Homo sapiens: one gene and its partners. The protein of the gene in region 2 interacts with the protein of the main gene of each other region in a biochemical or structural test. Each region holds a gene or a part of one and is shown on either strand. Other genes may lie near its edges. The genes, in order: RPS6KA3, PTPN3, YWHAB, SLCO1B1, PLCB2, SAPCD1 and EGLN1.

The links.
Region 1: the proteins of PTPN3 (region 2) and RPS6KA3 interact in a test that uses a peptide from one of them, tested with the Homo sapiens proteins (one large-scale study listed by IntAct).
Region 3: the proteins of PTPN3 (region 2) and YWHAB form a complex in vitro, tested with the Homo sapiens proteins (one study listed by BioGRID).
Region 4: the proteins of PTPN3 (region 2) and SLCO1B1 interact in a test that uses a peptide from one of them, tested with the Homo sapiens proteins (one large-scale study listed by IntAct).
Region 5: the proteins of PTPN3 (region 2) and PLCB2 interact in a test that uses a peptide from one of them, tested with the Homo sapiens proteins (one large-scale study listed by IntAct).
Region 6: the proteins of PTPN3 (region 2) and SAPCD1 interact in a test that uses a peptide from one of them, tested with the Homo sapiens proteins (one large-scale study listed by IntAct).
Region 7: the proteins of PTPN3 (region 2) and EGLN1 interact in a test that uses a peptide from one of them, tested with the Homo sapiens proteins (one large-scale study listed by IntAct).

Annotation. Positions count from the first base shown.
Region 1 is NC_000023.11:20,172,910-20,176,409, reverse strand, and holds part of RPS6KA3 (ribosomal protein S6 kinase alpha-3), read left to right. Parts: intron 1-57; coding exon 58-160; intron 161-1,121; coding exon 1,122-1,246; intron 1,247-3,500. UniProt on the Homo sapiens protein: Serine/threonine-protein kinase that acts downstream of ERK (MAPK1/ERK2 and MAPK3/ERK1) signaling and mediates mitogenic and stress-induced activation of the transcription factors CREB1, ETV1/ER81 and NR4A1/NUR77, regulates translation through RPS6 and EIF4B phosphorylation, and mediates cellular proliferation, survival, and differentiation by modulating mTOR signaling and repressing pro-apoptotic function of BAD and DAPK1.
Region 2 is NC_000009.12:109,491,466-109,495,736, forward strand, and holds part of PTPN3 (tyrosine-protein phosphatase non-receptor type 3), read right to left. Parts: intron 1-4,271.
Region 3 is NC_000020.11:44,898,958-44,903,228, reverse strand, and holds part of YWHAB (14-3-3 protein beta/alpha), read right to left. Parts: intron 1,699-4,271; 5' UTR 1,696-1,698; coding exon 1,396-1,695; intron 332-1,395; coding exon of another isoform or gene 311-331; exon of another isoform or gene 1-310. UniProt on the Homo sapiens protein: Adapter protein implicated in the regulation of a large spectrum of both general and specialized signaling pathways. Binds to a large number of partners, usually by recognition of a phosphoserine or phosphothreonine motif.
Region 4 is NC_000012.12:21,175,879-21,180,149, forward strand, and holds part of SLCO1B1 (solute carrier organic anion transporter family member 1B1), read left to right. Parts: intron 1-897; coding exon 898-1,019; intron 1,020-2,697; coding exon 2,698-2,844; intron 2,845-3,043; coding exon 3,044-3,142; intron 3,143-4,271. UniProt on the Homo sapiens protein: Mediates the Na(+)-independent uptake of organic anions.
Region 5 is NC_000015.10:40,297,713-40,301,983, forward strand, and holds part of PLCB2 (1-phosphatidylinositol 4,5-bisphosphate phosphodiesterase beta-2), read right to left. Parts: coding exon 4,245-4,271; intron 3,898-4,244; coding exon of another isoform or gene 3,880-3,897; exon of another isoform or gene 2,955-3,879; intron 1,763-2,954; coding exon of another isoform or gene 1,697-1,762; exon of another isoform or gene 1,534-1,696; intron 1,517-1,533; coding exon 1,416-1,516; intron 1,253-1,415; coding exon 1,086-1,252; intron 997-1,085; coding exon 850-996; intron 669-849; coding exon 511-668; intron 248-510; coding exon 165-247; intron 1-164. UniProt on the Homo sapiens protein: The production of the second messenger molecules diacylglycerol (DAG) and inositol 1,4,5-trisphosphate (IP3) is mediated by activated phosphatidylinositol-specific phospholipase C enzymes.
Region 6 is NC_000006.12:31,760,920-31,765,803, reverse strand, and holds SAPCD1 (suppressor APC domain-containing protein 1), read right to left. Parts: upstream 3,149-4,884; 5' UTR 2,750-3,148; coding exon 2,636-2,749; intron 2,390-2,635; coding exon 2,249-2,389; intron 1,741-2,248; coding exon 1,645-1,740; exon of another isoform or gene 1,539-1,644; coding exon 1,449-1,538; exon of another isoform or gene 1,369-1,448; coding exon 1,273-1,368; 3' UTR 954-1,272; downstream 1-953. Other genes in the region: VWA7 (von Willebrand factor A domain-containing protein 7 precursor), read left to right, coding at 34-210; MSH5 (mutS protein homolog 5), read right to left, coding at 3,273-3,384, 3,619-3,692, 3,849-3,986, 4,189-4,332, 4,542-4,619.
Region 7 is NC_000001.11:231,373,283-231,377,553, forward strand, and holds part of EGLN1 (egl nine homolog 1), read right to left. Parts: intron 818-4,271; coding exon 698-817; intron 1-697. UniProt on the Homo sapiens protein: Cellular oxygen sensor that catalyzes, under normoxic conditions, the post-translational formation of 4-hydroxyproline in hypoxia-inducible factor (HIF) alpha proteins.

The DNA of each region.
Region 1 (3,500 bases), on a different chromosome or scaffold from region 2:
TGAAATATTTCTTTATAATTAAAATATGTCTAAGTCTCTTTTTTTTTTCCCCTCCAGAAACTGTATAGAAGAGAAATTCATCCGCCATTTAAACCTGCAACGGGCAGGCCTGAAGATACATTCTATTTTGATCCTGAGTTTACTGCAAAAACTCCCAAAGGTAAGGAGAAAATGTGAAAATCCAAATATAAGACAACAAATATGTTTTTTTCTTGTTTCATCAGAAAATCTTTTCCAGACTCTGGGCGCGGTGGCTCACACTTGTAATCCCAGCACTTTGGGAGGCTGAGGCGAGCAGATCGCTTGAGGCCAGGAGTTGGAGACCAGCTTGGCCAACATAGTGAAACGCTGTCTCTACTAAAAATACCAAAATTAGCCAGGTTTGGTGGCATGTGCCTGTAATCCCAGCTACTTGGGTGGCTGAGGCACGAGAATCGCTTGAACCTGGGAGGTGGAGGTTGCAGTGCATCAAAATTGCACCACTGCACTCCAGCCTGGGTGACAGAGCGACACTCTGTCTCAAAAAGAAAAAAAGAAAATCTTTTCCTGGATAACTCTCTAAGCTATCTTCACATCTCCTAAATTTGCTGTAGATCAACCTTGTATCTCCCCTGTTCCACCCCAACTAGGTTATTATTGAGGGCTGCAGTTTCTAATATGGTAGCCAGTAGCCACATGTGGCTAATTAAATTTAAATTAATTAAAATTTAAAGTGTAGTTTCTCAGTCACGCTAGGCACGTTTCAAATGTCGAAAAGCTGCATGTAGCTAGTGGCTATCAGACTGTAAAGTTAAAGAAAATTTCCATCATTTCAGGAAATTCCATGGGACAGCATTAATTTTGAATACCATTAACCCTATAATTCATCGATGTATTATAGTCTTCAAATGAATTAGCTATTTTCTAGGCTCCGAGGGACTAGGATGTTGGTGTTGTAATGGCAATACACAATCAGAACAGATCTGATACAGTGCCTCACAGGTATCCTGGAAAGCAAGAGGTATATACTGTGTACCTGAGAAATAGAATTCCAGAATAAGTGAAAAAGGTCATAGTGTCAACAGTTTTTCCCTTAATTTCCTTTCAAATGAATCTTCTTTGTCACTTCTTACTCTTTTCAGATTCACCTGGCATTCCACCTAGTGCTAATGCACATCAGCTTTTTCGGGGGTTTAGTTTTGTTGCTATTACCTCAGATGATGAAAGCCAAGCTATGCAGACAGTTGGTGTACATTCAATTGTTCAGGTGAGTGGATGTCTAAATAATTTTAGATTTGGAATGTTGTAAGATATAGTTCATTCTGTGAATAGATCTTTTTCTACTGACTTCAAGTGAGCAATTTAAAATACATTTTAGACTGGGCATAGTGGCTCACACCCGTAATCCCAGCACTTTGGGAGGCCAAGGCAGTTGGATCACTTGAGGTCAGAAGTTCAAGACCAGCCTGGCCAACATGGTGAAACCCCTATCTCTACTAAAAATACAAAAATGAGTTGGGCATAGTGGCACGTGCCTGTAATTCCAGGTACTCAGGAGGCTGAGGCACAAGAATCACTTGATTCTGAGGCAGAGGTTGCAGTGAGCGGAGATCGCACCACTGCACTCCAGCCTGGGTGACAGAGTTGAAACTCTGTCTCAAAAAATAAAATAAAATACATTTTATATCATTAACTTTACTCTTAGGAATTTTTTTCATATGTCATCGAAAAGGTTGCAAGAACCAAAATCCTAGATACCTATGTGACTTGAAAGTAGAGTTTTAGGCCAGGTGCGGTGGCTCATGCTTGTAATCCCAGCACTTTGGGAGGCCGAGGCGGGCAGATCACAAGGTCAGGAGTTCGAGACCAGCCTGTCCAACACAGTGAAACCCCGTCTCTACTAAAAATACAAAAATTAGCTGGGCGTGGTGGCGCATGCCTGTAATCCCAGCTACTTAGGAGGCCGAGGCAAGAGAATCACTTGAACCCGGGAGGCAGAGTTTGCAGTGAGCCGAGATCCGCCACTGTACTCCAGCCTGGGCGACAGAGCTAGACTCTGTCTCAGAAAAAAAAAAAAAAAAAAGAAAGTAGAATTTTAAAAGAGTTGAGATAAACATGACGATGTTGTCTATATCCTCTCCTGTGCCTCAAAATGTTTTTCATGCCGAGTTTGTTTCACCCTCTGCCTCCTTCAGGTCAGCTATGATGAATTGAGGTCTTCTGGTTCTTTGATGCCTTAGAACAGGAGTCGGCAGACTTTCTCTGTGAAGGGTCAGATAATACTTGAGGCTTTGTGGGCTATATGGGCTGTGTCACAACTACTCAACTCTGCTATGTAGCACAAAACAACCACAGACAATACATAAACAAGTGGGCATGGCTGTGCACCAATAAAACTTTATTTACACACACAGGCAATGAATCAGATTTGGCTCACTGGCCATAGTTTGTCAACCTTTGCCTTAGAAAAGATACAAGAAATAAAAATGAACTCAAATCTTAAGTCATCTTTCTAATCAAAGGGAACTCGATATATCTTTTGAAGCATTGGATTCTTTTTAGGATATCATTTGTACTTGGATTTGCTTGATGATTAAGTTGCTTTTGCTCTAAAGTTTTTTCATGAGTCAGTTATCCTGTTTTCCATTTTGTAGAAAAACAATTAAAACACTGGTTTTTAAGCAGAGCTCATGTTGAAATAGTCTGTGCCATTTACTATGCAAGCACATGAATGTATGGCAAGTTTTTAAATTACAAATTCTGTACCTAACATAGAAACCACAAACTTGTATATCCTACAAAATTCAAGTTTTAACATATACAAAGCTCATAGGCATGGATGTCTCATATCAGTATAGCCAAGGGCAGCACAACTTTCCTCAGCCTGTTTATGGAATCAGTAAGTTGCTGTTCATCATCTACTGTGTGTTATTAGTCCCTAACCCATGACGAGCTTCTTTAGCATAAGTTGTGTAAGGCTATGACTTCAGGGTGAAGAAAGGAGGGAGTGGCTACTGAAAGTCCAAAATGGCGATAACAGGTATTGCTTGCAAATACATTATTTTTATTTAATCTTCACCATTACCCTCTGAGAAAATACAGGCTCAAAGTTACATAGCCTGTAAGTGGTGTACCTGAGACAAGAATTCAGATATTCTAATTCTGAATCCTCCTAAATCCTTTCCTTCTATACCATAGGTTTCAAACTTCTCATTTGCAAAGGTACTTGAAAACCTATAGCCGACTGGGGACTGGAATAAGGCTGAATCACAGACAAAGATGTAGGCCCCATATCAAGTAGCTCTGCTTTTTCTGTTGTGCAAATTCAATTTTTGTTTGTAACATAAGCTTTTTTAAGTCATATTTCTTGCTGTACACTTCATTGTAAACACTTTCAAAATCACTTGTTTGTAGAATAATAAGTACTATAAAGATGTATTTTTATTCTTATTCATTTATATGTAGGGCATCAACAATGCATGCTGAGTAACATACTTCCCTATTATAAAATGCACTAAAGG
Region 2 (4,271 bases):
TTCTTACAACCTTCCTATGGGTCTGAATTGTATCAAAATAAAACATTAAAAGAAAAAAAAATAAAACTTAGAAAAAGTTTTTTTAAAAAAGAGACCCTGCCTTCACACAGCTTACAGTGTAGCCGGGAGACAGGTACTAATACAAATAATTACATTAATTAACTGCAAAATTGCCACTAGGAAAAGTGCTATAATGGAGAGAGATCTGGTGGCATGAACATTTATAGCAACAATTTAACTCAAGTCAGGAAGGTGAGCAAAGGCTCTGCAATCATGGAGCTGAGACCCACAGGATGAAGTAATCAGTGGGGAGGGGGAGAAGGTCCCAGGCTCTTGCAGTCCCTGCAGCAGGAAGGAGCACGGTGAGGTGAGGGCTCAAAGAGCATGAACATAGGGCCTGCAGGAGATGCTGAGAGATCAGCTTTGTCTTCATTTTGAGAAAAATAGGAGTGTATGGAAGACTCCCCCGTCTGTGGAGTAGAGAATCCACTGGAAGCAGGAGAGGGCATGTGCAGATCATGGCAGTGCTGACAGTGGACCAGCTGCTTTCAGAGAAGCATCATGCATAATTTTTCTTGTGTTCCCTGACACTTTATTTTCTACAAGAACCATGAATGCATTTGATAACCAGAGCAGGGGAGGGGACTCGGGGGAGCCAGTGGGGAAGACTGAGCTCAGAGGCCAACCTCCCCTCCCCAGGCCCAATGGTGGCTGGCGGTCAAAAAACAGCTGATGGAGCTGGTTGCTGCCTCCCTCACCGAGAACCTCTGGGCTAGCCCTTGAGCTGATGTGGCTGAGGGAGGTGACATGCATGGGCCAGGTCTCCAACCCCACTCCTACGCCAGGGGACCCTCATCAGCACAGCATTCAGGCAGCCATGGCCCCTGCACAGTCCTGGATGCTCCCTCTTGGAATATCCCTTCAGTCCTGAGAACCGGGACCTGTGGTCCTGGCTGAGGAGGGACCTTCACTCACCCACAGCGACTCTCAGCACTGAACACAGATCAAAGCACTTGTCTGGAGGGTCAGGGGTCTGACCACAAAGTGAGGGACCCCTTTTCTATGCCAAGTTTTGCCTTAGTTTTCCACATTAGCTCATTGACAACAGTCAACTTAAAGGGAATAGGTGCAATTATGATCCTCATTTTACAGGGTGGAAGTTGATTATACAATTTGGGTCATTATTGTAATGCCCAACTAAATCAGAGTTGAGAGGCCAGGGGAAAAATACTCAGGGCACATAACATTGCTCCAAAAATGTAATTCTCTGCAAGCGTGGCTGCTAAAACTGCCTGTTATAACCTAAAACCAGTTTTATTTAATAACTACTGAAACAAATTGCTGTGACCCTAAGACTAGTTTTATCTGCTACCATCATGCAACAATCAGAGCTTGCCAGCTCCCGAAGAGCTTCTCTAGTGCCGATGGACTTTTTTCAAAACAATACATAATATTTCTCATTCTAATAAAACTCCCAACATTCTCTTTGTTTTCCAAACCAAAGACCACCTAGTCTGTATAGATTTCCCAAATTATTATTCTTACTTCCCAAGCAAAATGTTTTAAATTTAGAGAAACATCTGTTTTTATATTTTATTTGACTTTGACAACAGATGATTTGTCTAGGCACAGACTTGGGTTCAAATGTTGGCTGCAGCCAGGCACAGTGGTTCACGCCTGTGATTCCAGCACTTTGAGAGGCTGAGGCAGGAAGATCAGTTGAGCCGAGGAATTCAAGACCAGCCTGGCAACATGGCGAGACCCTTTCTCTATATTTAAAAAACAAACAAACAAACAAAAACCAAAAAGACAAATCTCGGCTGCACTGCTTACAAACACTGTGCTCTTTGGTGGTTACTTCATCTCTCTGAGCCTCAGTTTTCTCACCCCCTCTGTAAAATGGGGCTGGAAGGAATCAGTCAGATTTTGAGGCTAAAATGCACTGTTTGTTCCCTATGGGGGCTCAGTAAAAAAAATTCACTTCACTCTACACTGCTTAAACATTTACTAAAAGCTTGTGTATCCTAACAGTAAATCATGGGACCTCAATTTTCCAGGACTATTCCAATTTCAAATCCTCTGTCCTAACTTTCCATATAAACCATCAAAATGTTTCAAAAATTCCACTCTCTCAGTATCCAAACACTTCTCAGGCCTCCTCTTGCACAAAGCAGTGGCACACACATTCTTTTTTCACACTACAGATCCCGTTCTTTGGTTCAGAAAACGCAGTCAGCACAGTCCTGCCGGTCCCCTAAAGGAAATGGGGTCAGTGCTCCACTGCAATTCAGACTGGGCTGTTTCCCGGCACATCTATGTAAAGGCAGCCAGGGGGAGGCCGGGCCACAATCAGAGCATCACCCACAGAGGGACATACACTGGGCAGAGGAGTTCAGCCCCCACCTACTTGTACCTGGGAGGCAGCCTGGCGACAGGGTTGCTGTGAAGATTAAATGAATTAAGTTACTATTTGGAGAGCACTCACAACAGTGTGTGGCAACCAATAAGTACAGATTAGTGCTGATAACTAAAACCAGAGGCATCCCTGCAGAAGTTACTCCTGCCTCAAAGACAACACAGTGGCATTGCTCCCATCCAGGTGAAAACAAGGAGAATAGGCACTTAGCCCTGGGCTAGGTGAGGCCTGGCCCATGTACAGAGATAAAGCAGACCCGAACCAGAGCAGGTGGGTTCTGCATTAGTGAACACCAAGAGGCTGGATTTGGCTGGGTGCGGTGGCTCACGCCTATATCTCCACACTTTGGGAGGCCAAGGCAGGAGGACTGTTTGAGCCCAGGAGTTCGAGACCAGCTTGGGCAACATAGTAAGACTTTGTCTCCACAAAAAATAAAAAATTAGCTGGGTGTGGTGGCACATGCCTGTAGTCCCAGGTGCGAGGTACAAGGAGGACTGCTTGAGCCATGATCGGGCCACTGCACTCCAGCCTGATGACAGAGTGAGACCTTGTCTCAAAAAACAAAAAAGACCAGGTTGGACTTGGAGAAGAATCACCACGCCTATGATCCACAAAGTCTCTTCATGCCTTTGCCCCTGCTGTTTTGCCTGCCCTAAATGCCATCTTGTTCCTAAGTTTGAGGCTTAATTCAAATTATGCCTTGAAGTTAGAACTAACTTCTCCCCATGGTTAGAACTACGCTCCACAGTGTCTCCTGATGCCCATCGGAATGAATGGCTGCATCCTCTGGTGTCTCTTGCACCTAGCTTATCCTTTTAAAGTACTTACAGGACCATGGACAGATGGATGGGGACGCACATACACATATACAAACTGTCTTTCCAAATCCACCATGAATCCTTCCAAGGCAGGGGTTCAGCGTTCACCTCTGTAGCCCTATGGCCTAATACATGGTAGAGACTCAATAAATGTCTCAATTTGCTGTTAAATCTGTGCTCACACCTGGTCTTGGAATAACAAGTTAACCTGGGGGCAGTGGGAAGCTTCAGGTGCACACACAAGCAGAAGCTCTGGAGATGCAACATTTCTGGGTCTTAGAACCCATTACCAAATCAGTTTTCAGCCAGGGGCTTACCAAGCACTTCTCAGGTCCTTCTCGGCCAGAGGAAAGAAGACATCTATAAGATCAGGCTCTGAGGTCACCTGGACCCAGCCAAGAGCAGTGTGGACACTGACCTGGTCTCCTCCTGTCTCTATTAGAGTTGGAATGAAGAGCTGATGCTGGGTAGGCTACTGCACCCCCACCAGCCCTTCCAGACCAGGGTATGTGCTGGGTGCCTTCAGCATTCCAGCTTCTACAACAGATCTTGGGAAAAGATAAAGAGGCATTGTCCCTGCTTTCCAGGACCGCAATGCTGGAAGGTGAGCTCTCCTGGGAAAAGATGTAGGGACCACAAATTGCTGGTCTTTTCTCAACCACCACAAACCCGGAGGGTTGGGGAAAGGCAGGGTGCCATGTCTTCTCACTCCCTCCCATCCCCAAAGCTGAGCCCTTCTGGTAGGTTATGCCTGTCCTAGAAAATGTCTCTTGTGTGCCTGGACCTGTAGTTCAGAAGGTCAAAATTGGTCCCTCTTGCTCCTGGCCCCACTCTACCTTTGCCAGCTCAGTTTCCTTATCTGCAAGGTGGGGAATGGGGTGGGGTTTGGCAGCAACAAACCCCACTGTGTGTGAAACCTTCCAGTTCACAGCCAACAAAGCGTTGCTCTCAATTCTCTGAAGCCAATTACCACCTCGGAACCCCAGCTTTTTCCAGGGATAAGATTTGTCTCTGACCTTGCCTCCCTAACCAGGTCT
Region 3 (4,271 bases), on a different chromosome or scaffold from region 2:
ATAAGTTGACATACATAAAGCGCTTAACACGTTGCCTGGCACGTAGTAAGCACTCAAAGAGTAGCTAATACTATTAATAATAAATTCCTTTAAACATTTATGCTTACAACAAAAGTAGTTCTGAAGGAGTCCAAGCTTCGTATACAGAGCAATATTTTCGAAGAGTTGTTTTAGAATGTGGCATCCTGAAAAACTGGTTAAGAGGCAGTAAGTACCAAGCTCTTCTTCACATTCTTTCAGATGCTCTTAAAAGTTGGTCTACATTTCATGAATTATGGAACTTTCTTGCCCTTGGAATGCATGACATACTTCATCTGAATACCAGATGTACCTAACATTCAGGAATTAGTGCACCATTAACAAACCCCCAAATTACCAACAGGCAACAAATTTAGTCATGACACTCTTACGCCATGAGTCTAATAAAAAGAGAAGCTCAATGCAAAGCTTAGTTATAAGGGGATTTAATCAACCAAAGTGAGAAGATGCAGGGGGCGGCAGTCGTTTTAATATTCTTTGTAGACAGACAGTGTGTAACTCCTAATAGGTTAGGGATAAGGGGTGCTGCCTGATGGCTGACAAGCTTTATACTGGTTTTCAAAAGAAAGGAGTCATGGGCAGTAATTTAGAAAGGCAGCCAGCAGGGAAGGTGGTAGGTCCCCAAGTGTGAATTCCTTTTCCCTTCAAAGCAGCCCTCGCTGAGTTCATTTTTACCTGATTTCACCTGGAAGAAAAAGAAAGTTCCCAATGGCTCAGGATGTGCGGGAAAGACAATATGATTATGATTTGTTTTGGAGTACGTACCCCTCCCATTCAATCCCAAGTGGCGGCCAGAGGGAATCAATCATCTGACTAAGGGTTTATGTAAAATACAGGAGAGGAGAATGCCCAAAACACTTTGAATTTGGCTCTGGAATGCATGCCGAACTTGATGGATGTGCCTAACTTTCAGACCAAAGCAGGACTTTACAGTGTGAAGGCATGACTGGGGAGAGGCTGAAAGGCAGCTCAGCTTTTTCATCTCCCTCCCCTACTGGCGATGACATCACTACTCTGACTAATATACACAATAGCCTATCTGTAGCTGTATCTATTAAAATCCTGTCTATCTGGCCTCAATTTTAAAAGATGGAGGGAGGCTGAAAAAATGTCACTGTTTTTCACAGGTCTTTTTGATAGGAGAGGAAAGTATCTCAGAAGTGATGTACAACCTCTGATCAGGCAATAGGTGACACAAATTATATCATATGCTTAAAAATTAGTTGTAAATACCTGGCAGCTTTCCAGTATATTCAGACACCTCTCTCTCATAAGCTGTTTTGAGAGTCTGCATTTATACATTAAATTAATACTATTTAGAAACCACTGTTCAAAACAGAAGCACTGGCCTCTTACCAGAACATCATTGCAGATGTCCTGCAGTTCTGCCTCTATCTTCTCACGGTACTCTTTGCCCATCTGCTGCTTCTTCTCATTCCTCTCTGTTTTCTGCTCAATGCTGGAGATGACACGCCAGGAAGAGCGGCGGGCGCCTACCACATTCTTGTAGGCAACAGAGAGCAGATTTCTCTCTTCGTTGGAGAGTTCATGCCCCTGTTCTGTGACTGCCTTCATGGCTGCAGCCATATCATCATATCGCTCAGCCTGCTCAGCGAGTTTGGCTTTCTGTACCAGCTCACTTTTATCCATTGTCATTCCCTAGAACAAGAGCAAGAGAAAAAGAAAGAGCAAATGTCAGGTTTCGGGGCCTAGGAAACGTGTGTGAATCTTCTTCCAACCCATCTGGAAAGCAGCATACTAAATGTGAAACATCTCATTCCAAATGCCATCAACAATATTGATGATATATCAAACACCTCTAGGGTTAAGTACTTTGCTAAGGCCTTTATATTATTTTGGTCCAGTAATCTTCCCAACAGTCCCAGAGTAGGTATGTTCATAACAACAACTTTCCCCTTCTTATGGGTGAAGAAATGGAGGGTCAGGGAAGGCAAGTGATATGCCCAGAGCAACATGCAAATAGATGGTGGAGAGCCAGAACTCCAGCTCACATCTATCTGGCTCTAGAGCTTTTGTTTTCTTCCATTAGCCTAATTCACCTGCCTGGCACATACAGACTGCTTAATAACTATTTCTTTAGAAGTTTATGCTTACTAGCCGGGTGCAGTGGCTCACACCTGTAATCCCAGCACTCTGGGAGGCCGAGGAGGGCAATTCACGAGGTCAGGAGTTCGAGACCAGCCTGACCAACACAGTGAAACCCCATCTCTACTAAAAATACAAAAATTAGCCAGGCGTGGTGGCAGGCATTTGTAATCCCAGCTACTGGGGAGGCTGAGGCAGGAGGATCGCTTGAAACCAAAAGGCAGAGGTTGCAGTGGGCCGAGATCACGCCACTGGACTCCAGCGTGGGCAACAGAGTGAGACTCCATCTCAAAAAAAAAGTTTATGCTTACTATATATATGTCCTTGACTTCTCTCAGTAATTGTCTGGTTTGTTTTAATGACCTTAATCCAACTGTATCCTGTAATACAGGAAGTCCTCTCTTCACTGTCCTGTAAGCAACTCTGGTTTTGACTAAACCTGTTTTTTCCATAGTACAGGAAAGAGTAAGTATGATGTTTGTTTCAACCAATCCTGAAGCAAAAGATATGATTTTAAATGATCTATTTGGCTGCACCCATCAAGCAGTAGATAACTGAAGGATGGGAAAGATTATATCACATCTTCTGTAATCTGCTAACTTTGTTACTAGGACACACTGCACAGGAAGAACATAAACTAAGGGCAGTCAGACTTGGGCTCTATCTAGCACTAGCTCTGCTACTTACTTACAAGTGGCATGACCTTGGTTAAATCACTTAACCTGAGAGCTTCGGTCTCTACTGGGCAATAAGAACACTACCCAGGGCTGGATGTGGTGACTCACGCCTAGGATCCCAAGAGTTCAAGATTATCCTGGCAAATCAGTCTCTAACATAGTAAGACTTCATCTCTACAAAAGAAGAAAAAATTGGCTGGGTGTGGTGGTGTGCACCTGTAGTCCCAGCTACTCAGGAGGCTGAGGTGGGAGGATCACTTGAGCCCAGAGTTCCAGGATGCAGTGAGCCGTGACTGTGCCATTACATTCCAGCCTGGGCAACCAACTGAGACCCCTGTCTCTAAAAAAAAAAAGAAAGAACACTACCAACTCTTTTAGTGGGCCTGTTATGAGGAACAAAAGACCTGATACATGTGAAGGCACCTTAAAAAGTATAAAGCATTATATAAAAATATCAGGCACTAATTTTGTATATGGTATAGGTTGCAAGAGAAAGGGGTGTATAACAAGATGTACAGCAACATAACTTGAAACCATAACTGAATTCATCTGAACCATAACTGAGTTCATTTAAAGTTTTTCTGAAATAGACAAAAATCCTAGTGACTTCAGTTTATCAATTTATCAAATCCATATGCCAATCAGTGAATATCTCTTATCAACTCACCACAGTCAGTTCCCCACTGCAATAATCACCATTTACAGAGTGCGGTAATTTTAATAAGTAATTTTTGGATAAAATAATTGAAAAGTTATTTACTAAACAAGAAGAGTTAATTTTATGTACTGTTGGTTTAAATATTGATATATCAATCTGTGCCACACAGTATAAAAATACACTAATATCCTGAGCTATAAAAACATGAAATGCTACTTTAAACAGTAGTAGTAATGTCAGGTTTTTTTGTGTGCTTTGTCTGTTTGTTTGAGACAGAGTCTCACTCTGTCACCCAGGCTGAAGTACAGTGGTGGGATCTCGGTTCACTGCAACCTCCACCTCCAGGGTTCAAGTGATTCTCCTGCCTTAGCCTCCCAGGTAGCTGGGATTACAGGCACGTGCCACCATGCACAGCTAACTTTTGTATTTTTAGTAGAGATGGGATTTTGCCATTTTTGGCCAGGCTGGTCTTGAACTCCTAAACTCAGGTGATCTGCCCGCCTTGGCCTCCCAAAGTGCTGGGACTTACAGGCGTGACCCACTGCACCTAGCCAATGCCAGTATTTTCAAAACAAATTCTTTCATTACTACATACATGGTATCACAATTTAAGGCTCTGAAAATGATTATTTGTTTGGAGACGGAGTCTCATTCTGTCACCCAGGCTGGAGTTCAGTGACGCAACCTCGGCTCACTGCAACCTCTGCCTCCTGGGTTCAAGCGATTCTCCTCAGCCACCCGAGTAGCTGGGACTGCTGGCATGCACCACCACACTCGGCTGATTTTGTATT
Region 4 (4,271 bases), on a different chromosome or scaffold from region 2:
AAAATTAAGGACCACAATCTAGATCAGCATTGCTCTAAATATGCCATAATATGTGACACTTTTGCACCTGGTATTTCTACAGCCTTGAATACCTTTGTTTCTTTGTCTACCCTTCTATTCATCTTCCAGATTCGTTTTACCTGTCATTCTCATGTTGATGTCTTCTCTGATCTATTCCCGCAACCTCCAAGCAAAGTTGATCATATCCTTTGTCTTTGTGACAACTCAGGACCTTATATATTAAACTTATAACTTTTATCATCTATGTTTATACTAGTGTGAAATTCCCTAAGTACAAAAACTGTGTGTTTTATTTCTAGCTCTTTGAAGCTTAGCATAATGCCTGGAATACAGTAGGCTGCCTTTAGAGCTCACGTGGTACCTAATTATTTATGGATATTAACATCTCTGTTATTCCTATCAAGTTTTCTCTCATCTAGTTGAAATGGATTAGATTTTATTTTTACTACATTTTGAAGAGTCATACATTAGAGCGTGTGTGTGAATATGTGTCCATGAAAGAAAATCTGACAGACTGATCATCTTTGAAGATAATTCAAAAGGATGAATGGTTACACACAATTAATAATTACTTTTTAAAAAGGTGAAACTAGGATATTTCATATCTTGACCAAGATATAACCACTCCTAGGATAATAGCAAGGTGATAACCCACTTAGCCTGGGGTGTATTGAATTATCTTTCTTGCTGGACACTTCCATTTCACTTTTACCCATCACATCTCTTAAAACACATGCTGGGAAATTGACAGAAAGTACTCTGGTAATTTGGGGAAGATAATGGTGCAAATAAAGGGGAATATTTCTCTGTATTTCTAGGAAAAGTGAAAATATTCAGTAGATAAGCAAAATGTTTAATTCAGTGATGTTCTTACAGTTACAGGTATTCTAAAGAAACTAATATCAATTCATCAGAAAATTCAACATCGACCTTATCCACTTGTTTAATTAATCAAATTTTATCACTCAATAGAGCATCACCTGAGATAGTGGGAAAAGGTAAGAATTAATATTGACAGTAAAAAGTCTTCTAAAATGTATACATTTAATTACATCTCTAAAAATTGTTGTGATATTCATTAGCAAAATTTAATTAAGAATGAATAGGAAAAACATTTGACTCTTACAGACATAATTATAGTGTTAATATACACAGTTCGCCCATTAACAACACAGGTTTAAACTACGCGTTTTCACTTCTATGCAAATTTTGTCCATCTGAACTGGATGATAAACCTGCCGGTAAGAATATCTGACATTTTCTATATTTGGATTGAACAGGGCCAACTGCAGAACTTAAGTGTGCATGAATTTGAGAACACACAGGCAGCCCTGTAACAAATTCCTTAATATACCAAGGGATGACTGTATTATATGTAAAAGCATTTAGAAGTAGATCAGAAAAGAGAATATTTTCAATAGGAAATTGACAAAGAATATATGCATTAAAGTAAAACAGAAGGAAATGGTATAAATATGTAAATAATATAACTTTGCTTTCATTGCAAAAGGCAAACTATTATATCATTTAAAGACTTTTTGCCTATTATAACACAAATTATAAATTATAATTGCAAATTGTACTGCTAAAGATTTTTTTAACCTATTAAATAGAAAAAGACTAAAAATACATAGAGACGAGGTAGAGGCAAAAAAGGATTTCACATTGTATATATTGCTGGAAGTGTATACGTTTGTAAATCTTTCTGGAGATTCATTATCAATATATGTTAAGAACAAAAATATACTTACCTACTTAGTCTGAAATTCTGCTATTATTGATTAATCTTAAGGAAATAACCAGGAAACTGCAAAAGGACTTATTTACAGTTATAGTCATGATAAACCTAATAGAATAAAACAACAAAAAAGAAATTAAAACATAAGATACTGAATAAACACATTTGGAAACTTATTCAGCACATTACTGTCCAGTCATTAAAGTTTTGATATTAAAGAAATCTTAACAACATGGAACAATTGTTATAATATGGTGTTAACTGTGTATACCATTTAACAATATGAACTAGATTTTTAAATATATAATGGATATAATGAATATAATGTATATGTTTTGTGCAAATCTAGAAGATATATAAAAAAGCTTGAGGTGATCTTCTGTGTGTAATGTGATTACAGATAATTTTTACTTGTTTGTGCTTTTCTGTATGATATGGCTTGACTGTGTCCCCACTCAAATATCACCTTGATTGTAATAATCTCCACATGCCAAGAGTGGGGCCAGGTAGAGATAATTGAATTTTGGGGGCGGTTTCCCCCATACTGTTCTCGTGGTAATGAAGAAGTCTCACAAGATCTGATGATTTTATAAATGAGAGTTCCCCTGCAAAAGCTCTCTTGCCTGCCACCATGTAAGACATGGCTTTGCTCTTCCTTCATCTTCCGCCATGATTGTGAGGCCCCCCAGCCATGAGGAACTATGAGTCCATTAGACCCTTTTCCTTTATAAATTACCCAGTCTCAGGTATGTATTTATTAGCAGCATAAGAATGGACTAATACACCATATTGTCAAAGTTTGCAAAGTGAATATAAATTACTTGTACTTGTAAATTAAAAAAAAATAAGTAGAATAATTAAGAGTTTACAAGTAGTTAAATTTGTAATAGAAATGCTAAAATTAATGTTTAAAATGAAACACTCTCTTATCTACATAGGTTGTTTAAAGGAATCTGGGTCATACATGTGGATATATGTGTTCATGGGTAATATGCTTCGTGGAATAGGGGAGACTCCCATAGTACCATTGGGGCTTTCTTACATTGATGATTTCGCTAAAGAAGGACATTCTTCTTTGTATTTAGGTAATGTACACAAAATATTAAATTGTATGATCACTTTCCCTTTGTCTACTTTTGAAATAGTAGAGTTACTAAACTTATTATTTTACCTATTAGAACATATATTTGGGTATATGTATTGTATCATATTTCTTTTAAAAACATGGTGAATAAGAACCATGCATTCTTGGCATCTAGTAAAATTGCTTTATAATATTTTCAGGTATATTGAATGCAATAGCAATGATTGGTCCAATCATTGGCTTTACCCTGGGATCTCTGTTTTCTAAAATGTACGTGGATATTGGATATGTAGATCTAAGTAAGTACAACCAGAACAAGGTACCATGATAACGTCTTTCTAAGCACACATGCGAAAAACATTTTTTCAAATAACTGAATTCACTCTTTCAATAGTCCTTTGCTTAATATAATTAGAAAGTTACAAGTAGGAAATAAATGTATTACTAATCAGAATAAATATAAAATCCAGCTCCTATTTATACTATCTTTATAACTAAGTGTAAAATGAGAGAATGTAAACAAATTTATTTTCATGAGCTTGGTCCAAAATAACCAAATGTAAAATGTCTCCCTCCCAAACTGACTGTCCAGTCAAGTAAATTTTATTTTTCAGTTGATGGTGGCTTGGATGTTGATGTGTACAACTTAAAGTTTGCTTTGCTAAAGTCTTCTTGTGGCTGCTGCATTGATTTATGGCTGGAGTCATTTGAGAGACTTCACTGTGTATTTTATGGTCATTTTCCCTGGTCCTAGCAGAGGGCTTGGCGTATGGCAATGTTCAGTAAGTACTTGTTGAACAAAGGAATAAAGCAGAGGACACATAAATAAAATCTATGATTTTCTTCTTCATTCTCAGAGCATACTTTCCTTCTTATCTCATAGATGAAAGAGATGCCATGTTATAAAAACTGTCTCAACTTCAGGCCCTTTTCCCTAAAAATATTCTTGCACCATATCTATCTTTATCTTCTTTTTCTTTTTTGCAGCTCAGTGGAAAATATATACATCTGTATCCAATGTTGATAGATCTAGCTGGAGCTTAGATTCTCCCTTCCCGCTTCTTTATCTCCATCTTCTCTTTTATTCAGCAAACACACCCAAGTATTTCCCATCTTTATATGTAGATACAGTTTTTTATACCCCCACACAACTTTCCAGCTGAATCCTTTTTTTATTCCTCTTTAGAACCAAGCACCTAGGAAAATATCAGCTAAATTAGCTAAGATATCTCACCTTCTCACCTCCCATCCACTTCTAAATCCAGTATAATCTGCTTCTGTTATTAGTGAAACACAATCAATTTCTACCTACTTTACTATAGATTTGTAAATGGGTATATTTCTATCATTTGCGTTAATTGATATTTCCAGTGCTTCTTCATCCATTTTCCCTCCTTAGATATCTTATTAGTACCTAAAGCACAATAT
Region 5 (4,271 bases), on a different chromosome or scaffold from region 2:
GCTGGGACTCGAGCAGGAGAACATGAGGCCTTAGGGTGATTATACTGAGACGTGGGAGAAGCTGTAGGCAATGGTTAGAGGCTGGGGCAGTTGTGGGGAGGACAGTTGCAGACAGGAGACTGGGGGCTGGGTGAGAATGTGGCTGAATGGGCCTGGATACGCACGAGTCCACATGGTTCTCAAACGACAGGATGATGGGATAGGGGGAGGTCTTAAAGGCGCTTTCTGCAATAGCCTCAATTGCTTCCTGGAGGAGAAGGAGACTCCATGAACAGAAGGTCAGCGTTCCGACTGCCTGTCTCGTGATAGCACTTTTCCCCCCTGCCTAGTTTCAATACACACATATAACTGCATGGCCGCCATTGGCCCCCAATCCCTGCTGGTCCCCAATGGTCTGAGGCCTTCCAGCCATTCATCTTCTCTAGCTTCAGCCCTCCAACCCCTCAAAGCTTCTGGCCCAGAGCCCTTCCCTACTGCCACGGCCACCAGCCTCTGTGCCCAGGGTCTCACTTTGAAGAAGATGTCTGTGGTCATGGTGAAGCCATGGGTGATAATGGGCTCCTCGTCAGGGGGTTTCCCCTTCCAGCAGTCTAGCTCCACGCAACGGCAGCCAGAGAGCAGCACCTGGCGGTACATCTCAGCCGAGGAGAGGCCTGAGAACTGGCCGGCTGAGCCAGAGGATGGGGAAGAGGTGAGGGCATCACCCAAAGGCAGCCCAGCTCTCCCCCTACCGCCACTCCATCATGGTCTGTGTTATTCTCAGGGCCAGCAGCATGTGGGCAACCCCTGTGGAGGATGCAGGGAACCCCTGTGAAAGCAGAGGTTGGCACCAATGTTATCAGGGCCCACCTGTCAGGTAGGTGTTGTGGGACGAGTTGATGAAGTAATGATTGAGTGGCTGCGTCATGTCGTGGTGGAGCAGCAGCTTGTCCTGGGCCAGCACGCTGTTCTCTGGCCCACAGAGAAACCAGACCATGCCTTCAGGTGACAGCTGGCCTGGGGGACAGGAGATAGCTGTCAGGCTACAACCCCGCTGCCAAGGCAGGACAGGACCACAGGGGACAAGGGGTTCCCTTAGTCCTCACCCCTCTGTGCATTGATGCCACTGGGCTCATACTTGTCGATGAGGCCCTGCACCTGGTCAGGCCGTGCTGGCGGGAACAGCAGGGAGTTAAGCCGGGAGTCCCGCTGTTTCTGGTTGATGAATTTGGTCAGGTGCTCCTTCGTCATGTAGGGTTTGGCCTTAGCATGGCTTCAAGCCAGAGAGAAGAGCACAGGTCCATATCCCTTGGGCCTGGAGGCTTAGACAACCCCCTTGTCCAGTGAAGCCTCCTGACTCCCGGCATGGCAGGTGGGAGGAGGGGATTGTTAGCCACCACCCTTTTCCCATGACCAGCACAACCCAAGAAACTCACTAAGAAGTGAAGATCTCATCTATTTCTGGCCGAGGACAGAGGCTCATGAGGAAACTCTTGTAGACAGGTTCTGGGAAGTCCTCAGGATTGATGGCGTCATTCTAGGGGCATAGTAACCTTATTGCCCCTGCCCTCACCTTCTCAGAGCTAAGAACCACAAACTCGGCCCAGCCCTGGTCAAGGGGACCTGGTCAGAAGGCGGGCTCAAGGCAGACAGAAGAACTTCAAGGACACCCAAGCATCCACTTCTCAAGGCCCTGGTTGCTGAGCAGAGAGCATGCTTAGCTGGTTTGCTCTGACCCTGATTTTGTACAGTGGCTATTCCATTGGCTGGGGCAGGATCGGAACTAAGAATAACCAGAATGAGGTAGAAAAGAGGTCAGAAGAAATGATGCTGCTTGCCAGGCTAGTAGGCTATCTTTTTTAAGTGGAGGACAAATATTCAAAAAGAAGCAATTTGAATATAAACATATATGCACCTAACAACAGAACCCCATAATATATAAAACAAAAACTGATAGAATTGAAAGGAGGACAATTCAACAATAATATTTGGAGACACCAAAAGCACCGGGACAAAGAAAGATAAATTAAACGTCATCAAAATTAAAAACTTTTGTGCTTCAAAGGACACCATCAAGAAAGTGAAAAGGTAACCCACAGAATGGGATAAAATATTTGCAAATCAGATATCCGATAAGAGATAAGTCAACAAAAAGACAACCCAGTTGAAAGATGGACAATGGATTTGGACAGGTATTTCTCCAAAGAAGATATATAAGTGACTAATAAACACAGAAAAGGTGCTCAATATAATTTGTAGTTAGAGACATGCAAATCAAAACCACAATGAGATACCACTCCCACTAGGATGGCTAAAACAAAAAACAGACAATCACAAGTGTCAGCGGGATGTGACTAACCTAAAACCCCACACAGCACTTTGGGAGGCCGAGGAGGGTGGATCACCTGAGGTCAGGAGTTCGAGACCAGCCTGGCCAACATGGTGAAACCCCATCTCTACTAAAAATACAAAAATTAGCCCAGCATGGTGGCACATGCTTGTAATCCCAGCTACTTGGGAGGCTGAGGCAGGAGAATTGCTTGAACCTGGGAGGCAGAGGTTGCAGTGAACTGAGATCACGCCACTGCACTCCAGCCCGGGCAACAGAGTGAGACTCTGTCTCAAAAATAAATAAATAAATCCCTACACAATGCTCTCACTTTAGAAAACAGTTTGGCGGTTTCTCAAATTGTTAAATATAGAGTGACCACATGACCCAACAATTCCACCCCTGGGTATATACCCAAGAGAATTTACACATGTTCACACAAAATCATGTACATGAATATTCATAACCAAAAAGTACAAAAAACCCAAACATCTACCAACTGATAAACAGATGAACAAAATGTGGTATATCCATACAATGGAATATTATTAGGTGGTAAAAAGGAATGAAGTACTCATGCATGCTACAACATGGATAAACCTTGAAAACATTATGAGAAATGAATACAGCCTGACATCGAAAAGCATATATTTATGATTTCATTTACTTTACCACCAGAATAGGCAAATCTATAGAAATAGAAATGAAAAGTACATTTGTGGTATTCAGGGATTCTGCACCTTTGCATTCCTTCCCCCCCCAAAAAAAACATTAAATGTCTTTCAGAATCACACTGGAAGGCCAACATCAGTCTTAGTTTGGAGCAGAGGGTCTGAGCAGGAGAGTCTAACTGGATCTCCCCAAACCCCTCCCTGTCTCTGGAGCTTCAGCTCCAAGCAAAGTTGGGTCAGTAGCCTCTACTGAGACACAAGGAAAGCAGATAGATAAGGAGGACTTAGCCAAGGGAGGAGCTCAGGCAGCAGGAGAGAGGGAGGGTGGATGTGTGCTGACCACAGGTAAGTGTTGCTGGCTGTAGGGGAGCCGCAGGAGCCCATTCCTACCTCTCCCCAACGCCACATTTGGATCCCTGTGACTGACTGCATCAAGGAGTCACCAACTCTGCAGAGCTGTGGCTGTGGGGTAAATGCTCCTCCTGGGATTCATGTGGGCAGGTGATCAATGGGGGTCGTGGTTTTATTTATTTATAACGTTCCAAATTCTTACCAGGAGAAAATACTCCATGGGGTATAGGCTGGGACCCACACAAGAGCACTGGCCAAGCAGGGACAGGGGCTGAGATTCGCTCCATTGGCCAGGCTTGAAGCCTAGCTCAGGGCCATATCAGCCCAGAGGGCTCCTTTTTGTAATTCACACAAGTTGCTTCATGGGGTGACCCTGCTTACAACTTGTAATTAAAAATTAATTATTTAACTAAAAAGACAGGGAAAAATGCTTTTCTGTACAGAGCAGAAGTCTGCATCTTGGCAGCTTCCGCCTTTGGTTCAGTTCCTCTCCCTCGACACGCTGCAGACTTCCAGATCCCTGCAGACTGCCGCCTGCCACTGCCGACCTTATCTCGCTCCTCCAGGCTGAAAACATTCACGCTCAGCTCCCATTCCCAACACTAGACTGGGAATGCATGCCGTTTCTGCTGCCTGCCCTGAACACAGTCCATCAACCACAGCCCCAGCGCCCCCACCACCCAGGGTAGGGGATACAGACAAACCTGCTTGGAGCTCAGGGTCTCACTCCCTTGCCCTGGCTCCACCCCTGTGCCTAGTGTCAGTAACCAGCAGCTCCAGGGTTGATTGGCTCTCCAGGCTCTTGGCTGGGGCTGTGATGTCACCTCTGCTCCCCCACCCACCATTCCTGGCCAAGTTGCTTTCTGGTGGGGACAAGAATGCTGGGGGATGGGCAGGGGTGCAGATCCACTCACTTTGCCTTTGGGGAGGTGGCAGGCACT
Region 6 (4,884 bases), on a different chromosome or scaffold from region 2:
CACACCCTGTCATTCTCTTCCTTTTCCCCACAGGACCGGCACACCACCCCTACCGGCTCATCTGACCCGATCCTCACCACGGCCACCCCTGCCTTTTCCCCCTTCACATTGGTGACTCAAGGCAGGGCTGGGGCAGGGCTGGCTGCGGGCAGCCCCTGGTGGGGCACAGTTGGAGGGGTGCTGCTTCTGCTAGGCCTGGCCTCCTGGTGACACAACGGGCTCTAAAGGGATGGGTCTCCAGCACTATTTTCAACCTGCCCCATTGGTAAGAAGACCTGGGACACATTTGTCACATAGGTCTTAGGACCTTACCTCTCCTAGCTGGGATGAAGGTTTTCTCTTTTTTGTTGTTGTTGTTTTTTTTTTGAGATGTAGTTTTGCTCATTGCCCAGGCTGGAGTGCAGCGGCGCAATCTCGGCTCGCTGCAACCTCTGCCTCCTAGGTTCAAGCGATTCTCCTGCCTCAGCCTCCCAAGTAGCTGGGATCACAGGTGCCCGCCACCACGCCCGGCTAATTTTTTGTATTTTTAGTAGAGACAGGGTTTCACTATGTTGGCCAGGCTGGTCTCAAACTCCTGACCTCAGGTGATCTGCCTGCCTCGGCCTCCCAAAGTGCTGGGATTACAGGCGTGAGCCACCGTGCCCAGCCAATGAAGGTTTTCTTTCTCCATCACATCCCTTTCCTTTCTTAGAAACTTCGAGACTGGGGCTGGGTGCAGTGGCTCACGCCTGTAATCCCAGCACTCTGGGAGGCTGAGGCAGGAGGATCACTTGAGCCCAGGAGGTTGAGGCTGCAGTGAGTTGTGGTCGAACCACTGCACTACAGCCTGAGCGACAGTGAGACCCTATCTCAGAAACAAAACAAAACAAAACACCCTGCAAGACTGGGATAGAGGGCAATGGATATTCCCACAATGCACTTTTCCTAACCCTATGAGAAACAAACCAAAGACATTTTTGGAGAAAGCTGCTTTCTGGAGCAGTTTCAGTTTTATTTTTGTATTTAAGGCTGAAGGACAGTTTCAATAAACATGCTTCTTCCCAGAGGGATTTCAAAGAAAGATCGTTTTTGCATGTCATATAGGGGAGAATGAGGACATGAGACACCAAGAAGATGAAGTTTTCAGGAGCAGAGGAGAAACTTTACACCAACATGTCTGAACTTCATTGACTCACTACCTGGAGCCATTTTTTAGCTGTTGAGTTAAGAAACAGAAAAAGGAGCCTGGGGCTTCTGACTCTTTCACCAGGCTTAGGGGAGTGAGAGGAGGGTTTAGACACGGGTAGGGCCTCTTGGCCCCTTGGTGCAGCCCCGCTGAGCCATCTCCTCCTTTGGCTGGGTGACTCCTTTCTGCTGCCTTGACAACTCCTGGAGGAGAAACAGATGGGGCCTCTGGGCTCCTCCCAGCCCTGTAGGGTGGGGCTCCTGCCCTCCTTCTTGAAGTTTACCTGTTGCTGCCACAAGTTCTGCTCCCTTCGTCTTTCCTTTGAATCCTGGGTGGTGCAGGAACTAGCCTTGTTCAGTGGACTTGGGGAGAACTGGAGGGGAAATTCGCTGTGTTTTCTGTTAAGCCAGCACTGACCCCAACAACTCCCCTCTCTAGTCCAACTTCCCAAAAGTCTAAACTGAAAACAATAAACTCACCTTCTCATGAATCAGATTCTGCAAACAGATGTTCACCTTTTGAATCTGGGCTAACGGGGGGCGACCAGGCTCTGAGTGTAAATCTGTTAGAAAATTCTAGAGGAGGAGTTGGAGGCTGACAACATGGTGAAAACCTGAGGTCGTCTGCCACTCTATTCCTGTCACCACAGGCCATCCCTCTCATCTGGATCCCCTCGTCCCAGTACCCTCCCAGGCAGGTGGGAAAATCCAGTACTCTCCACCTCCATCTCTTTAGCACATCAGTTCCTCCATCTCCCTCAAATAGCACAATACCCCCTTTCACTACTCTTCATGGAGCCTCCCTGTCCATCCCTGCCCCATTGGAATAATCCAGGCCACACCCTCATCTCCATGGAGTGATCCAAATCCCTCTGAATGGAATGCAGACCAGCTTCCTCCAGCCCCAACAATGAACACCAACTTAACACTTGGTGGCATCCTGTCATTACGATGCTGCCTCCAACTCATGATCCCTGACCATTAACTCTCCCCTCTCCAGAGTGGTCTCAGGCTGTGTCTACACATTCCCTGTTCCTCCCTCCCTGGTCCTCCCCCCATTCACACAGAGGGGCAGCCCCCATACCTCACCAAGGGCCCCTAGATGCAGCTGCTGTCGCTGTGCCTCCCTCAGATGGTCTTCAAACCAGGCCTGGCCATGCTGTAGCAGCTCCAGACCCTGCCACAGGGCATCCTGTTCTCTCTCCAGAGCCTGCATCCTGCGTAGCTGGGAAAGGCAATCACAGAGGCTGACTCTCACGCCACAGTAGGGCTCTGGGTTATGGCCCTTTCTCTCCACCCCTAGTTGGGTTCACTGTGTGGTCACTGAGTGTGAACCCAGACTGGCCACTGAGGACCTGGAGGGCAAGGGGAGGCAGGCGGGAACACTGTGGGCCCTCAAGTTGAATGGAAATATAAAGGGCAGATCTATTGAGAGAGTTCCCCTGGGACCTCTTGTTGGGCTGATACTCACCCAAAGGAAGAAGCTCTGGGCCCCTGGGTCTTGGCGGCTTGTCCCCAGCGGCAGCAGCAGGACTGTGTAGGGAGCCTGCACCAAGGGCACCCCGCCAGAGCCCTGGCTCCCCATGGCTCTGAGGTGGGAAGGGTGGAGCCACTCCCACTGGTGCAGCCCGGGCTGGTCCCTCCCCTCCACCCCTGCCTTGCACCCATCCTGCCTCTGTCAGCCTCTCAGGCCCCTTCCTGCTGTGTCTGTCTGAGGCTGGGGTGTTCCTACTTGAGAAGAGAGACCATCTCCCTTGGACCCCTCTGTCTTCCCTCTAATCTGTTTTGTAGGGCCTCTCTGAAGGGGTTCGTTCTCATGAAGTATCCTGGGGTAGAATCCGGGAGTCTTCCTACAGCAACAACACTGTATTTTTACTGAGGCAGGGCAGGTTCCCCTGTGGACTCCTGCTCTGTGTTTTGGATCTTTCCTAGTCTCTTGTTTTGAGACTAAAGAAACAATATCTTTCTTCAAAATAAACTTTATTCCTAATATGAAACAAAATTTCTAGAGAAACTAAAAACTCTGCGTCTGAGGGAGATAAGGAAACAAAGAGGGCATGGCAGCCCACCGGAGTCTCAGGAGGCTGGGGAGGACACTGGAAGGACTCTCAGAGGATGCTGGTGGCAGCAGGCAGCACTTCCTGGCTCATGAAAACGTTCAAGTCCAGGTTAGGATCTTCCAAATCCAGTTTCATAAACTTATCCACTAATGTCTGGCAACTGAAGAAGAGAGAAAATCGCAAGATTTATGGCAGAATGGACAACCAAATCCCTGGGCAGAGGGGAGAGGCTGTGGCACAGAAAACCTGGGATCTTGAAGATTTAGGGATTTCAGAAAGAAATGGTGGGTTTCTGAAGGGCAAAGTGCTGGAGGAAGGCTGAGTCCCTGAAAAGGGGAGAAGAGTTGCAGGAGAAGATGCAGAGAGGGTAAAGACACTGGGGCCATATACGCACTTTTCCATTTGGTTCTTCTTTAGCAAATCCTTGACAGGCTTGATGGGTTTTCCACTGCGGATCAAGTCTGAGACCTAGGAACAAGCAAGAAGGTGGGAGGAGTAAGGGGAGTGGGGAAGAGAAGGGGAAATAAGGGTCAGAAATCCTGTGGACCTAGACCCAGGCCCAGTAGGACTAGGAATGAAAGGGAGCTCTGATGTGGAGGTGGTTGCACATTTGGATCTCATCACCTCCTTGCCACGAGCCACAAGCTTGTCAGGAAGCCCAGCCTGGGCAGCTGTGTGGGAGGCATGGCTGGCCTTCGCAACACCTTCGCAAACCTGATAGAAGAAGACAAGATCGTTGCCATCCTCACAGGTCTCCATGGTCTTAAAAGAGAATAAAAGACAGTGTATCATCAATCACCTCCTTCCTGTCCTGAAACCCTTGGCCAATCCTGTGGGGAGGGAGAAAAGGGAAGGGATGTGGTCTCTGTGCTGAGGGAGCCCTTGTTCTGATAGAGGAGCCAATCCCCACCTCTGGGAAATGCCCAGCCTGGGGGTCCCCGAGGAGCTAGATTGGTCTCCTCACCAAATACTGCACCAGGGGCCCTTGTGGCAGCAGTTGTAGCTGAACAAGGCTCAGAAAGTTGGTGGCCACAAAGATGTGGGGGCATGTGGGTCCACGTGCCAGCCAGTGTCGGAGCACAGCGGCCAGAAGCGCGAGCCCATCCACCTGCAAAGAGGGCAGAGGTTAGCATTCGGAGCCATGGGGACCCCATATGCCCCTCTGCACTTGCACTGCCTTTCCCTGTCTCGTGTTCTATTTCTTTTCTGCCCACACAGCCCTATTCCATTCCAGAGGCCCAGCCTCACTGTCATGCTCCTTCATCCTCCTCCATTTTCCCCTCCTTAGTTTCTCCCCTCATCAGTTTCTCCCCTCACCGTGTTGGTTCCCTTTCCAAATTCATCAATAAGGACCAGCGACTGTGCAGTGGCATTGTTCACTGCTTTCGCCACCTGCTGGGTATAAGGTGGACAAGGGAAAGTTAGTATTGGAAGCCCGTAACGCACTGACCACAGTTGGCCTGTGAATAAAGCTGTATACATGCCCTCCCTACTGCACTGCAAGTTCTTGAATGGTGAGGTGCACGCTTTGTTCATCCTCTTTGCCAACAGTGACTCACATGAAACAAGGGTTCAAGAAATGTTTATGGTATTGATTCTTCTTATCTCTGACCTTAGTGCTCCCCACTTTTAGTATAAAGGGCATGCAGCAGAGGGCATG
Region 7 (4,271 bases), on a different chromosome or scaffold from region 2:
ACAAAAATGCCAAGAATAACATAGCAAATAATCCTTAACAATTATCCATAGATAATCTCCCCCAAAAGCCATTATAAAACAACTGTTCTCAGAAATGTTTTTCTAAAAACTATTAAAAGGAAAATATTTTAATAAAGGTCACCTTTCTAAAAAAGTTAGATTTTAGATAAGTGCTCTAACATCTGAAAATAAATGAATCCACTTTTTAAGATATATCAGTACTTTTTTATATGGTTTTGAGGTATAACTGATATACAAAAATGCATATCTTTAACATTTACAATTTGATGAGTTTGGATATATACGCACACCCTCATGACACACCACAACCAAGGTAATAAACATATCCATCACCTCTCAAAGTTCCGTTTCCCTTCCCCTAACCTCGTGTGTGCGTGTGTGTGTGTGTGTGTGTGTGTGTATGTGTGTGTGTTTAGAACACTGAACATGGAGTCTACCCTCTTAAATTTTTAAGTGCACAACACTACGTTGTTAACTACAGGTATCATGTTGTATAACATAGAGTAGTATTTGTTTCATTTTACAAAAATCCACTCCTAATACCTGAGACTGAAACAAATTTAAGAGGAAAATTTTTAACTGTGTCTGTGACAGTCTTATCAGAAGTATGAAACTTAATGCTTTTGAGAAAAAGACACCTGTAAGAAAAAAATAAATGCTCAATTAAGTTGCATACCTTGGCATCCCAGTCTTTATTAAGATAATATATACATGTCACACATCTTCCATCTCCATTTGGATTATCAACATGACGTACATAACCCGTTCCATTGCCCGGATAACAAGCAACCATGGCCTGTAATAATGATAATAATGATTATTAAAGTCCATGTATAAATAAAAAGAGAGAACAGCTAATAAATCAGATCTCTGATTTTTGGCTACTGATTTACACTTAGATTCTTCTAATAAAAATAATATTTTGTAGATAAGATAAGGCTATTCTACATTAACATTTATAGGGAACACAAGATAGGTTGATGAACAAGGACTGGTGAATTCTGCTTCACAGTGATAACTCCAAAGATCAGAAAAATTTCTTGGTCCTACTTTGACAATCTTTATAAATACAGATAATCAAGATCAAGTACGTTTTTGTCCTGCTCCATGGGAGATTTCAATCTTCCTTGAGCTCACCTCAGAACACCTACTTTACCATCTGATAGGTGAACCAACCCAGTCAACACCCCATCTGACACTGTCTCTGAATGGTACCAATTTTTTTTTTTTTTGAGACAGGGTCTGGCTCTGTTGCTCAGGTTCGAGTGCAGTGATGCAATCATGGCTCACTGCGGCCTCAACCTCCTGGGCTCAGGTGATTCTCCCACCTCAGCCTCCTAAGTAGCTAGGACTATAAGCACGTGTCACCAGGCTGGTTAATTTTTGTATTTTTTGTAGATATGGTGTCTTACTATGTTGTAATAGGGATAATTTAGGAGGTCAACTAAACTCCAAACATTAACTCATTTAGTGTCAGTGATTTTTTTTTAAAAAAAGGACTAAACAAATTAGCTTATGTTTACCCTCTTTCAATCAGAAAGAAAATTATTTGCTCAGATTATAACAAGATATGGTTCAGAAGACTGTTGGATGTTAAGCTTAAAGGTAGAAAAGAGGCCCAAAATAAAAAGCACAAAATAACTTCCATATTCTAGGTGTACATGATAATTAACTGAAATTGGTAATGGTATTTTTTAAAAAATTCTCAGGAATTATGAAGAAAACAAACAAAGACGTTCAAGGTTATGAGCTATTCTTGTTTTTGTTTGTTTTTTTACAGAGTCTTGCTCTGTTGACCAGGCTAGAGTGCAGTGGCACGATCTCAGCTCACTGCCTCCACCTTCCAGGTTCAAGCGATTCTCCTGCCTCGGCCTCCCGAGTAGCTGGGATTACAGGTGCATGCTGCCAGGCCCGGCTAATTTTTGTATTTTTAGTAGATACAGGGTTTCACCATGTTGGCCAAGCTGGTCTTAAACTCCTGACCTCAAGTGATCCTCCTGCCTCAGCCTCCCAAAGTGCTGGAATTACAGGCTTGAGCCACCACGCCACCCGGTTTGTTATGAGCTATTCTTGAAGTCCTTTATTTCTTCATATAATAAAGTCAATGAATTAGTATAAAGTTATCAAACAGTAACCGAATTGTTCTACTATCATATTAAAAGAAAAATGCTAATTTTTAAAACTCACTTCCCATCCCTAAGAAACTAAGAGGCATCTTAAACCTAAATCCTTATTTAAAAATCCTGTTTCCCTAGACACTCTGAATTCACTGCTCTTTATAAGCAGCAGAATTTTTGGAGAACATTATATATGTCTCTGTTTTTCCTGATTCCAGACAGACTTAACAAGTTCCTTCTTTCAGCACTGGAGGTTGGTAACAACCAGGAGTGTGGCATGGGCTTAGTGGGTTTAAGTGCTCAATAAATGATGAGCCCAAATGATTTTCTTGTCACTAGCTACCCAGGAAAGAAGTTTACCTTGAATAGTAACTGTAAGAGGGTACTAATTTAACAATGCAATTACTCCATTTGTGGTTAACTGAAGTAATTATGATGAATTACACAATATATTGTTATTCATGGGAAAGAAGGGGGAAACCTGAACTCTACATCTCAAAAAAGTTAATTTGGGCCTTTCCAACTATCTGGTAACTTCAGCATCTCTTGTGTAAAGAAGGAAGGGGAAAATATTTGTCAGTCACTCACCCCATCACATCCCATATATCCATTTAACAAATACCTCTTGAACATCGACTATGTATATGAAAGGCACTGGGGCTAAAACGATGAACCAAAGAGAAAAGGTCCCTTGCACTCATTTACATAGTCCCTCCTTATAAGAAGTTTTGCTTTCTGTGATTTCAGTTACCTTTGGTCAACTTAGTCCAAAAAATTTAATAGAAAATTCCAGAAATAAACAGTTTATAAATTGCACACCATTCTGAGTAGTGCACTGAAATACCTTGCAGTCCTGCCCCGTTTTGCCTGGGATGAATCATCCCTTTGTCCAGCATATCCACACTGTAGATGCTATCCACCCATTAGTCATTTAGTAGCCTTCTAGGTCATCAGAGCAATCGTCGTGGTACTTGTGTTCAAGGAAACCTTATTTTATTTAATAACAGCTCCAAAGTGCAAGAGTAGCGATGCTGGCATACTGTTATAATTGTCCTATTTTACTGTTGTTGTTAATCTCTTACTTTATAAATTAAGCTTTATTATAGGTATGTATGTACAGGAAAAAATATAGTATATTAGGATTTGGTACTATCCACAGTTTCAGGCATCCACTTGGTCTCGGAAGGTATTGCCCTCAGATAAGAGGGGACTATTGTACTATGAAATCTGGTCTAACAGCATAATTAGCCAATAAACAGATATATAATGTAATGTTAGGTAGTGAAAAGTTGTATTTTCTTAAGATATGAAAAAAATTAGGTATATAGAGAAAGATGACATGATATTCTTGAACAGTGGTTGACATTTGGGTTTAGACTTAAATGAAGGGAGCGGCAAGTTGGGCAAATCTCTGAAGAGAGAGCAATGTGGCAGAGGGAAAATGAGTGCTCAAAGGCTGAACAAGGCAGGAAAGAGCAGCAGGCCAGTGTGGCTGGAACACAGCGAGCACGGGCCAATGTGATCAGAGAGGAACCAGGTAACCTAGAGCTGCAGGGCTTGGTAAGCCACAGGAAGGCCTTTGGATATTGTGCTAAGAAGGGCCAGGAAGCCAACAGAGAATGTATCTGACTAATGTTTTGAGAATATCAGTTTCAAGTCTGTATGAATAAAAACAACCACAACAACCTCAATATCTCTTACCACCTAACATTTATGGGACATTTACTGTTTGCCATGTCCTATCTAAGTAATTTGTGCATAACAAGTTGTCTGACACAACCATGTGAGGTAAACAGTATCACTGTTCTCATCCTCATTCCTCTAAACTGAGGTTTAGAAAGGCTAATTAGTATTCGCAAAGTCACATGACAGGGAATCTGGTTCCAGAACCCATGGAATTAACCACTGTACTAGACTGCAGGAAGCAAAGAGTGAAAAGAGAAGACTAAGTTAGCTATTAAAGTTTCCGGGCAAGAAACCAAAGAGGCTGAGCCCAGAGTAGCAAAGTGGGGTGTATTCTGAAGGCAGAAAACCAACATGATTTGCTAATGAGTGGAGAGTAAGAAGAGTCAAGAATGACTACGGGGTTTTCAGCCTAGGTAAGTAAATGAATGGAGTCACTGTACATGAAAA